3 linked regions of the Homo sapiens genome follow. The protein of the gene in region 2 purifies or fractionates together with the protein of the main gene of each other region. This does not show direct contact. Each region holds a gene or a part of one and is shown on either strand. Other genes may lie near its edges.

Evidence for each region. The genes of interacting proteins can lie anywhere in the genome.
Region 1: the proteins of USH1C (region 2) and LTV1 purify together in Homo sapiens (affinity purification with mass spectrometry; one large-scale study listed by BioGRID and IntAct). This does not show direct contact.
Region 3: the proteins of USH1C (region 2) and WDR20 purify together in Homo sapiens (affinity purification with mass spectrometry; one large-scale study listed by BioGRID and IntAct). This does not show direct contact.

The regions. Positions count from the first base shown.
Region 1 is NC_000006.12:143,856,838-143,860,337, reverse strand, and holds part of LTV1 (protein LTV1 homolog), read right to left. Parts: intron 3,036-3,500; coding exon 2,894-3,035; exon of another isoform or gene 2,757-2,893; coding exon of another isoform or gene 2,755-2,756; intron 2,587-2,754; coding exon 2,331-2,586; intron 1-2,330. UniProt on the Homo sapiens protein: Essential for ribosome biogenesis.
Region 2 is NC_000011.10:17,506,417-17,509,916, forward strand, and holds part of USH1C (harmonin), read right to left. Parts: intron 3,423-3,500; coding exon 2,940-3,422; intron 2,814-2,939; coding exon of another isoform or gene 2,706-2,813; exon of another isoform or gene 1-2,705. UniProt on the Homo sapiens protein: Anchoring/scaffolding protein that is a part of the functional network formed by USH1C, USH1G, CDH23 and MYO7A that mediates mechanotransduction in cochlear hair cells. Required for normal development and maintenance of cochlear hair cell bundles.
Region 3 is NC_000014.9:102,146,397-102,149,896, reverse strand, and holds part of WDR20 (WD repeat-containing protein 20), read right to left. Parts: intron 1-3,500. UniProt on the Homo sapiens protein: Regulator of deubiquitinating complexes. Activates deubiquitinating activity of complexes containing USP12. Anchors at the base of the ubiquitin-contacting loop of USP12 and remotely modulates the catalytic center of the enzyme.

The DNA of each region.
Region 1 (3,500 bases), on a different chromosome or scaffold from region 2:
TCTTACACAATAGTTATTCAGGTACTATCACAATTACCATTAAAATATCAGTAGGGATTTAATGCAACAATAGGATGTGGAAGATATTTCTGCTCAGTACTTTAAGACTTACATTTAGCCTAAAAATAGGCTTCCATTTAACATGTAAATGAAAGGCATTATTCCACTCAGCTTGGAGAACAAAATGCTAGGCAGCACAGATTACGTCAGAACATTTTTGAAGATACTTTTTCTTTTTTTTAAGTATCTCACTGTCTCCCAGCCTGGAGTACAGTGGCGTGATCATAGTTCACTGCAGCCTCAAACTCTCAGGCTCAAGCAATCTTCCCACCTCAGCCTCTCAAGCAGCTGGGACCACAGGCACATGCCACCATACCAGGCCATTTTATTTATTTTTTTAAATAGAAACAGGGTCTGCACTGCCCAAGACAGTCTCAAACTCCTAGGCTCAAGTGATCCATCTGCTTCGGCCTCCCACAGTTCTGAGATTATAGGCACGAGACACTACGCCTAGACTAAAGATATTTTCATATTCCTTAGTTATGCAAACTAAAAGATTGTGCAACTGAAAATTCACCTACTAATGTATATATTTGTTCTTGTTTAGACAATAATTACTATATTATGCAAATGGTGTTGACACTGTTAAGCTTTGACAAAGAGTAAATGGGGGGGATATATCTCCTGAAGAGTGAGATTTGTAGCAACAGTTTGTTTCTCCCTCAAGAGAAGAGGGAAAATAGTATTAGGTGAGAAGGTAGCAAGGTAACAGCCTTTATTTTAGATTCACCTGGATGGCAACTATTCCTTCATTCATTTATCATTTATGGAACACTTTAAACTTCTATTACATGCCAAGACACCATTTTAGGCTTTTGGATGTATCCGTGAGCAAAATACAAAGAACTCTCTGCCCTTGGGGAATTCACATTCTAATCTGAGACAAATCTATATATAACATACATAATAAAGCACAACATTAGAGATGATGTTAGGAGGTGTTATGTGCTACAGAACAAACAACAGGATAGGTGGGATTAAAAACCTGTATAAACAGTCTATAGGTTGGGATTATAAACCCTGGAGCTAATCTGTTACAACAGAACCAAATAGAGTATATGAAAATACAAGCTTTCAAAAGTGTCTTATACTCTACTTCCATTCTATTCCTCAGTGTTAGTTATGTCTGAAAACACCAGATGAGAAACGGAAAGAAATGGAATTTTGATGTGCTCAATCAGGCCAATACTTCAGAAATATAGCATCTTATGGATTACTGTTGGAGAAATTCAGAATCAGGATGTCAGAATTCAAGGGGGAAAATAAGAACGTTTGATCAGCCAACTCCTTTTGACCTACACACGTTCTTTCCAGAATCAAAACTAGGGTGACTGGCCTCATAGAATATGTAAAGGGAAAACGACAATAACTAAGGTGCTTTTATGCTCTGTTTTAATAAAGAGATACGCTGTTTTCAACACTCAAAAGTTTTAGCTTTGGGTCCCAATCTCTCTTTTTAAAAAATAAAAAAAGAAAAATAACAAAAAAAAACAAGGCACACAGCAAGGCGCCTAACATCTACTTAGCTCGCGGGCGGATCAGCTGACTTGGCCAGAGGATGTTCCAGTTTCCAGATCAACCTCAACCCGCTCGGCTTCGTCAAGGTCCTTGAGTGGACTGCTTCTATCTTTAGAGTCACCTTGAAGGAAACTATTCCTTCATTCATTTATCATTTATGGAACACTTTAAACTTCTACTACATGCCAAGACACCATTTTAGGCTTTCAGATGTATCGTGAGCAAAATATAAAAAACTCTCTGCCCTTGGGGGATTCACATTCTAATCTGAGACAAATCCATATATGACATACATAATAAAGAAGCACAACATTAGAGATGGTGAGGGTTTAAGGGCCACTTCTGGGGGTTTTAAGGGCCAAATAGAAACTCAAGTGAGTTGTCCTACCACAGTTAGTGAGAATAAAACTATTACAGCTACTTTTGGTTACCCATTCAGGTTGAATGAGGCATCATTTGAGCCACCTCCTGGTGTAAGCGTGTGATGTAAATTGGAAAAGTCACATCCTCCTAACCAATTACTCTTCTTCTGCACAGTTCTATGCTCCCTTTGCAGTCTTTGTGCTCCTGTACTGCACTGATACCCTTCTGCTTTATGCTGGCTACACGAACCTATAGCTGGATAGTTGTAAACTTCCTATGATTGACTTTGTGGTTGGTGAGCACTTCAACCTGGGCTAAAGCTGACAGGTATTAAAAAAAAAAATTTAACATAAGATAGTACTAAAGCATCCCTTATGTGGGGACCTTACCTTCTCAAACCTCTCATCATGTAGGGTCAGCTGTTCATTTCTCCTCATGACTGAGGAAGTCATCGAATACTCCGTGAAGCGACTCTTTGTTTCCTCACTCCAGAACAAGTGATCTGCTATAGCTCTGTGAGTTTTTCCGGGCACAGACATACAGTCTTCATCTGACAATAGGCCTGCAGAGTCATAGTCATCATTGCTATCTCCCTTCTCATCATCCACATCTTCCCACTCGCTGTCATCTTCATTCTCAGATTTCCTAAAGTAAAGGTCATAAATTACCTACCAAAACAACTTAAAAAGTAACAGAACAAAACCACTTTACACAAGTAAAATTGGAAGGTATTTCAGGAAGGGTTCTTGTCTAGGCAGGAAGAGTGAGGGTGTTTGATCAATCTGGTTTGGTAGGAAAAGCAATGAATCTCACATTTTCTGCTCTAAAATACAGAAGTCTCAGATTAAATGCTCTTGAAGGTCTCTTCCAACTGTAACGTTCTATGGTTACCATCCCACTGAAGCAGTAACACTTAGGTCATCATCTCTGCTTTGAAACAAACCACACATACTGTATATCCATTCCCTCTTCCTCTCCTGTTGCCTTATTGGCCTGAAGAATAAAGTCATCCTCAAGCAGATTATCTGGATCATCAAAGTCAAAATCATCATCAAGAGCTGCAACAATGTCAGGATCAAAATCCAGTCGAGGTCCTAGAAGGAAAACAAAAATTAAGCAGTAATTCCCAAGATAGCAACAATTCATTCACTTAACTCACAATATAAGGACCTATGATAGCAAGAGTCTATTAATATATTGAGGATAAAAGAACGATTAAGAACTAAGTTCAGTCTAGTGAAGAATAAAGAATGAACACTCCAAGACAAAAAAAGGAAACAAAATGCTGCCTCAGCCCCAGTCAGGACCTTATAAATAAAACTCCCATCTTCCTGGGACAGAGCACCTGGGGGAAGGGGCGGCTGTGGGCACAGCTTCAGCAGACTCAAACGTTCCTGCCTGCCGGCTCTGAAGAGAGCAGCGGATCTCCCGGCACAGTGCTCAAGCTCTGCTAAGGGACAGACTGCCTCCTCAAGTGGGTCCCTGACCCCTGTGCCTCCTGCCTAGGAGACACCTCCCATCAGGGGTCAATAGACACCTCATAGAGGAGAGCTCTGGTT
Region 2 (3,500 bases):
GGGGAGCTGACGCAACCTGTCTGCTTGGCTCTAACCCACTTGATCTTTTTGGGCAAGATGTATCAAATCAGTTCACAGCCCTGCCCCCAAACCCTCCCCAGTGTCCGCATTGACTACTGAGCTCATTGGCTTGACTCCCAAGGCCTTTCATGAGCTTCTCTAGCTTCCTTTTCAGCCTTATCTCTCACTCCTCGCCACGCTCCTCACACTGCCTAGCTTTAGCCTCAAAAAATGCCAGGCTTTCTTGCCTTGAGGCCTTTGCACGTGCTCTTCCTTCTTCCGCTTTGCCTCCTAGGTCTTAAGTTGGGCGTCACTGCCTTCTGGAAGCCTCCCTTGAGCTTTTCCTCTACTCCAGCCCTCTTCCTTATTATAGCACCTGTGCTTCCTCCGTCTCCACGCTGATGGTGTGGCGGGTGCCTACTTTTCTTTGTTCCCCACCAGACTGTCTTGAGAAGGGAGACTGCAGCTGTCTATCCAGCAGGGATTCCCAGTGCCCTGCATAGTGCCTTGGCATATAGTAGGTGCTCAATAAGCATGTGTTGAATGAATAAATGAATGACTAAATAGTATGGTGAGAACATGGGACAGTGCCTGTGGATAGATCTGGCCCTGAAAACCCCCCTATGGCCGGTGCTGGTGTGGCAGGCACAAGTGTCAAGCCAACACAGGTGTTTGTTTCCATGACTTGGGGCCTGCTGGTGGCTGGGCTGACTGTGTGGGCGTGTGGTCACTCACACTTCCTGCTGCAGCACTGATGACAGCTTGCCAGGGGCATGCAGGGAGGAGGAGGGTGGGTGGTACAAGGGTGAGAGGTGGGCCAAATGAAGCCAACCAAGCAACAGCCCCCTGGCTTTTGAGGCTGGGACAACCCTGGCTTTGATGTCGCTTGTGACATTTATAGTCCAGTTCTTCAGAGGCTCCTTGTGTTGGGGGGCTTTTAACCTTCCCTGGGCTCTGATCAGGAACTAACAGTGGGAACTTGGTGATGCCTTGAAGAATCTGAGAAGTCTGGACTCTGTCTTGAATCTTGATCCTGACTCAAAGTTTTGCTGACACTGAGATTGCTAAGATCCCAGGTTTGCAGCTTCACCCAAATTTTCTTTTACTCTGGACTATCAATAACCATAGTTAATGTCTACTGAACATCCACGATGTGCCTGCCACTCTTGCCATTCTTAACTTAGAATGTGTCCATGTATTAACTTATTTGATTCGAATAGGTAGCTGCCATTAGCATTCCTATTTTTGGACAGGGATGCCCAGGCTCAGATAGATGAAGTAGCATGTGTTCAGTTACCTAGCTAGTAAGTGGCACAGCCAGGATTCAAACCCAGGCAGGCCAACTCCCTGCTACTCCAACTTGCCATCTTTATGTTCCCTGCACTTGCAATGCCCTTGCTCCCATCCTCCATGTGTTGCCATCCCTCAAGGCTCAGCTCGTAAGCCCTCTACTCTACAGAGGTGTCTTCAATCTTCAGTTAGAATGAATCCCTCCCATAGCGCATGGCTTATGCATATTTTATAGCAGAAGCCTGCCTGGGCAGCAGCTCATCCTTCAGATGGCAAAGTCCTGGAAAGCACAGGCATGTCAATCTCCTCTGCATCCTCTTCAGCACTGCTCCCCTCTCCCCTTCACAGAGAGAGGCCCCAGGCAGGTACTCAATCAAAGTGGAATCAAATTTGTTGAGGAAAAGCTACTGCTCATCTTGATGGAGGCCACTTACAGAGAAAAATGTTGTGCAAGGCTAACTCAGCTCTAGAAACCAGCTCCTGGCTGGGCTCTGGGGAAAGATGTCCCGAGAACAGGCAGATTTCTTCCTGTCAAAGCTGCAGGGCTCACGACCCCAACCAGAGGTCCAGAAAGGGTCCCTCTGAGAGTCTCCCGCTGGAAGCTTCAGCCTTGCTGGCATCTGGCACTTTCTTCACTCCCACCTTCCTTGTAAGCTCTCCTGAGTGCTCTGAGATGCTTGTCCTGCTCTCCACGCAGGAACTCAAATCCATGCAGGGAAGGTTAATAAAAACCACTGGTCAGGTGCTATTGACTATGCCCTCCCTCAGCAACCCCTGCTACCCTCAGCTGACATGAGATGCCTTTGCACTGACTCAAGCCTGGCCTCATGGCTACGGGAGTGGAATAATATTTTGTTTTTCCCTTCATGGGATCCAAGCTCCCTGTCTTCCTCAGAGATTGCATGTTTCAAAATAGTCTTTGGATTACGAATAATTAATAAGAAATATGTCTTTTTCAGAAAGACACTGTTCATCTTCCTAACATCCAAGAAAAACATTCCTATTCTTTTAATAGTAAATTATTTCTAGGAACTCTCTCATCTTCATTTTTTCTATAGCTGGAAATTGGCCAGAAATTTCTGGGTATTACACTTCAAGCCAGTGCAGTTGGCCAGTACTGTAGAAAATGGCACTGGAATGTCCTAATACTGCATTTGATGGTACAGTGTTATCACTTCATTTACAGAGCCAAATACGCCCCTGCTTCCTCCTCCCCTCCCTTTTTTTCCCGTTAAATCAGGAGCCATTTCCCATATTCAAGGCTTTCTGGGATAATATCAGGAAGTGACTGGATGTGACAGAGTGCTGGCTATTCATTAACATAGACTTCCAAGTCCTACATTGAAAGTTACCAGCCTACACTAGCAAAGAAGAGCTAAGAGAGAGCAATGAATATCAAATGGACACACCGTTGCTTACCCCAAAGGTCCCAGGCCATTCACCATACAATACAGCACTTCAAAATCAGTGAGAACCACCATATACATGCAGGATGTCCACACATGCACACGGAGGGGGCATTCCTGGAAAATGGGGTGAGATGATGTTTCTTTCTGTCTCCACTCTCAGGAGCAGTGGAGGACATGGGAAACAGCAGTTCTCCCCACTCTTCCTACTTCCAAACATAGCATGCAGAACAGGGACATTACCTTTGGGGTGGGTGGGAAGCTCTGTTCAGGGACAGGGGAGTTAGTGGGCTTCCCACTGTGGTTCTTTGCCTCCCAGTCCTCCACTGGATTGCCTGTGTCCCCAGTGCGGAAGGGATGGTTGCTCAGTGCTTCTTCCAGCGCCGAGGGCAGTGGGCGGGTGGGAGTGAGGTCTTGGGTGGGAACGGATGGCGGGGGAGGGATGGGAATGGGGGGTGGAGTGCGCTGCACCCATGGAGAGGATGAGGCGCTCACATGGCCAGATAAGGGAAGGACAGGGGGCGCCGGGACCTTGTGGGGTGGGTTGGAGGGTGGAGGGTGGGGCATCACAGGCAAGGCAGAGGGAGTCTTGGGGGGATAGTAGAACATGTCCAAAGGGATGTCGTCCAGGTCAGTGGTGTGCAGGTGCAGTCCGCCTGCGAAGCGTCTCAAGGGTGGGGCCAGGGGAGACACAGAAGGCGGGGGAGGCGGGGGCCCTGTGGTCATCTGGGGGTGTTGCAAGGAAGTTCTGTAATTGTCACTCTGCTTAGAGCTCCACTTCACAATACAGCGAGCACTATGCTC
Region 3 (3,500 bases), on a different chromosome or scaffold from region 2:
TACAGTGAAACCCCATCTCTACTAAAAAATACAAAAATTAGCCGGGCGTGGTGGCATGTGCCTGCAGTCCCAGCCACTCTGGAGTCTGAGGCAGAGAACTGCTTGAACCCAGGAGGCAGAGGTTGCAGTGTGCTGAGATCGAGCCACTGCACTCCAGCCTGGGCGACAGAGTGAGACTCCGTCTCAAATAAATAAATAAATAAAATAGAATTGATGACACAAAATATTTCTCAATTTACAAATTACCAACTGGCAGAGAAGCTGAAAAGTTGAGAAAAATGCTAAAAGAGCAGTGGACATCTTACGCTCAATCAGAAATAAAAATAAAGCATTTCTGAAATTAGAAATACAAGGCAACAAATTTAAAAATTTATAAAAAATATGATCTGCACACAACATTTTAGGGCAAATTATCTATTTGAAACCCAATGCAATATTCTTCTACTAGGCAGAGAAATACTTTTCCACTTCACCTTTACTCCTTAATTCCACTTGATACTTACATTGCTATGCCACATGCAGAGCACATATCCTCTACTTTGTATTATAATGATAAATACAAAATCAGCCGGGAACAATGGCTCACATCTGTAATCCCAGCACTTTGGGAGCACAAGGCAAAAGCATCACTTGAGCCCAGGAGTTCAAGGTCAGACTAGGCAACACAGCAAGACCCAGTCTCTACAAAAGAAAAAAATGTATTTATGTATGTATTTTTTGTTTGTTTGTTTTGTTTTGAGAGAGTCTCACTCTGTCGCCCAGGCTGGAGTGCAGTGGCACGATCTCAGCTCACTGCAAGCGCCACCTCCCGGGTTCAAGTATTCTCCTGCCTCAGCCTTCCGAGTAGCTGCGACTACAGGCACCCGCCACCACACCCAGCTAAATTTTTTTGTATTTTTAGTAGAGAGGGGGTGTCGCTGTGTTAGCCAGGACGGTCTCAAACTCCTGACCTCGTGATCCGCCCGCCTCGGCCTCCCAAAGTGCAGGGATTACAAGCGTGAGCCACCGCGCCTGGCCTACAAAAAATTTTTTAAAAATTATCCAGGCACAGTGGCACATGCCTGTAGTCCCAATTACTCAGGAGGCTGAGGCGGGAGGATCACTTGAGCCCAGGAGGTTGAAGCTGCAGTGAGCTATGATTGTGCCACTGCCCTCCAGCCTAGGTGACACAGTGAGACCCTGTTCCAAACACACACACACACACACACACACACACACACACACACAAAGCCAAACTCTTTAAAGACAGGAGTGTTAAATACACTTCACATCCGCCACAATAGACAGCAGTGCCTTGTATATACCAGTCATCAATAAATGCTTGATGAATGAGGATTATGATTTTTTTTTTTTTTTGAGACAGAGTCTCAGCTCTGTCACCCAGGCTGGAGTCCAGTGGCACAATTTCCGCTCACTGCAGCCTCAACCTCCCAGGCTCCAGCAATTCTCCCACCTAAGCCACCTGAATAGCTGGGGCCACAGGCGTGCACCACCACACCTGGCTAATTTTTTCTTGTAGAGATGAGCTCTCACTATGTTGCCCTGGCTGGTCTCAAACTCCTGGGGCTCAACCAATCCTCCTGCCTCGGTCTCCTAAAATACTGGGATTAAGGGCAAGAGCCAAGGTAACTTGTCACTGATGCTGTCAATTTCAAGTGTCCTGAAAATTAAAACTGAAGTCTACCAATTAGAAATGTCTACCAATTAAGGTTACTTCTATTTTTAAGGTCTTCTCCTGAATAACCAAACAAGATCACATTTCATATTACTGCACAAACTAACCTCACTGAGAAACAAACAGAATTATTCTCTGAGATACTAAATTCCAGACGACAAAAATCTTCCTATTTTTAAAACAAGGTTCTTGGCCAGGCGTAGTAGCCCACGCCTGTAATCCCAGCACTTTGGGAGGCCCAGGCAGGTGGATCACCTGAGGTCAGGAGTTCAAGGCCAGCCTGGCCAACATGGGGAAACCCCGTCTCTACTAAAAAGACAAAAATTAGCTGGGTGTGGTGGCAGGTGCCTGTAATCCCAGTTACTCGGGAGGCTGAGGCCTGCGAATGGCTTGAACCCGGGAGGCAGAGGTTGCAGTGAACCAAGATCATGCCATTGCACTCCAGCCTGGGGAATAGAGTGAGACTCTGTCTCCAAAACTAAAACTAAAACTAAAATAAAATAAAACAAGGTTCTTTAGCCATACAGCCAAACCACTCAGTGACAAAATCCACCATGTTTTGATGCTTGCTCAAGCTCAAGTTTGCCATCAAAGCACTTTACCCTTAAGTCACTATATTAAGTCAATGATAATAAATATCGTATAAGTGACACATTTCTTGAGGGCAGAGACTCTGACTACACCCAGCATCTAAAACAGTACCTCATATCTGGTAGGCATACTCCATGAATATTTGCTGAAAGAATGGCATTCATGACTATCTCACGGACTTCCATGACATATTCCAGGTGCTTCTCACCATTGCTCATATCTACCCATGAAGTCCTCCTTTTTTGGGAAGGTCTCGCTTTGTTGCCCAGGCTGGAGTGCACTGGCACGATCTTGGCTCACTGCAACCTCCACCTCCTGGGTTCAAGTGATTCTCCTGCCTCCTGAGTAGCTGGGATTACAGGCATGCGCCACCATACTTGGCTAATTTTTGTATTTTTAGTAGAGATGTGGTTTCCCCGTGTTGGCCAGGCTGGTCTTGAACTCCTAACCCCAGATGATCCACCCGCCTCAGCCTCCCAAAGTGCTGGGATTACAAGCCACCCATGCAATCTTTCAATATCTCATGACCACCCTCCTCTTCAAAGCCAAGAGAACCCAGGTATAGTATGAAAGTATCTCCTGCTTTAAATGATACATTAAGATGCTTTCCCCTCAGTATGCAAAATTCTAAAGTCAAATAAATCATCAATATTTCAGAAGTCAGCAAATAGCCCTTAATGGAAAAGAAACACAAGTTTCCAGTCATTCAGCAACCCTCTGTGACCTACTAAATTAAGTACAAGATTTCTCAAAGTAAATCTAATACAAAAAGTTACAGACTTCTAAACCTCTTTCTAAATTATAAAAGGGGAGCCAGGGAGGTGTGAAAAATTACAAAAGGGGAGAATGGTGTGAACATGACCCTCTCTGAAGCAGTAAAATATCTAAAACAAGTCTGTGGGGGGGAAATTTTTTTTAAAGGCATCTAGTTCACCCTCCCACACAAAGCAGGAATTCCTCCAATGTCACCAACAGGTGGTCCTGCAGTTTTTGACAAAGAGACAGAACATTTCCCATATGAGCATTCCCATAACAGAACGCTCATTCTCTCTCAAGTCAACCCATTACCTTCTTCTTTAATCAGGATCTAAAAATACTTTAGCTTTTATCAACTGACTCTTCTTCTGGCCCCAACTTCATCTCAGCATCATGAACATAAAGCTCTTCTAGCCGGGCATGGTGATTCACACCTGTAATCCCAGCACTTTGAGAGGCCGAGACGGGTGGATCACAA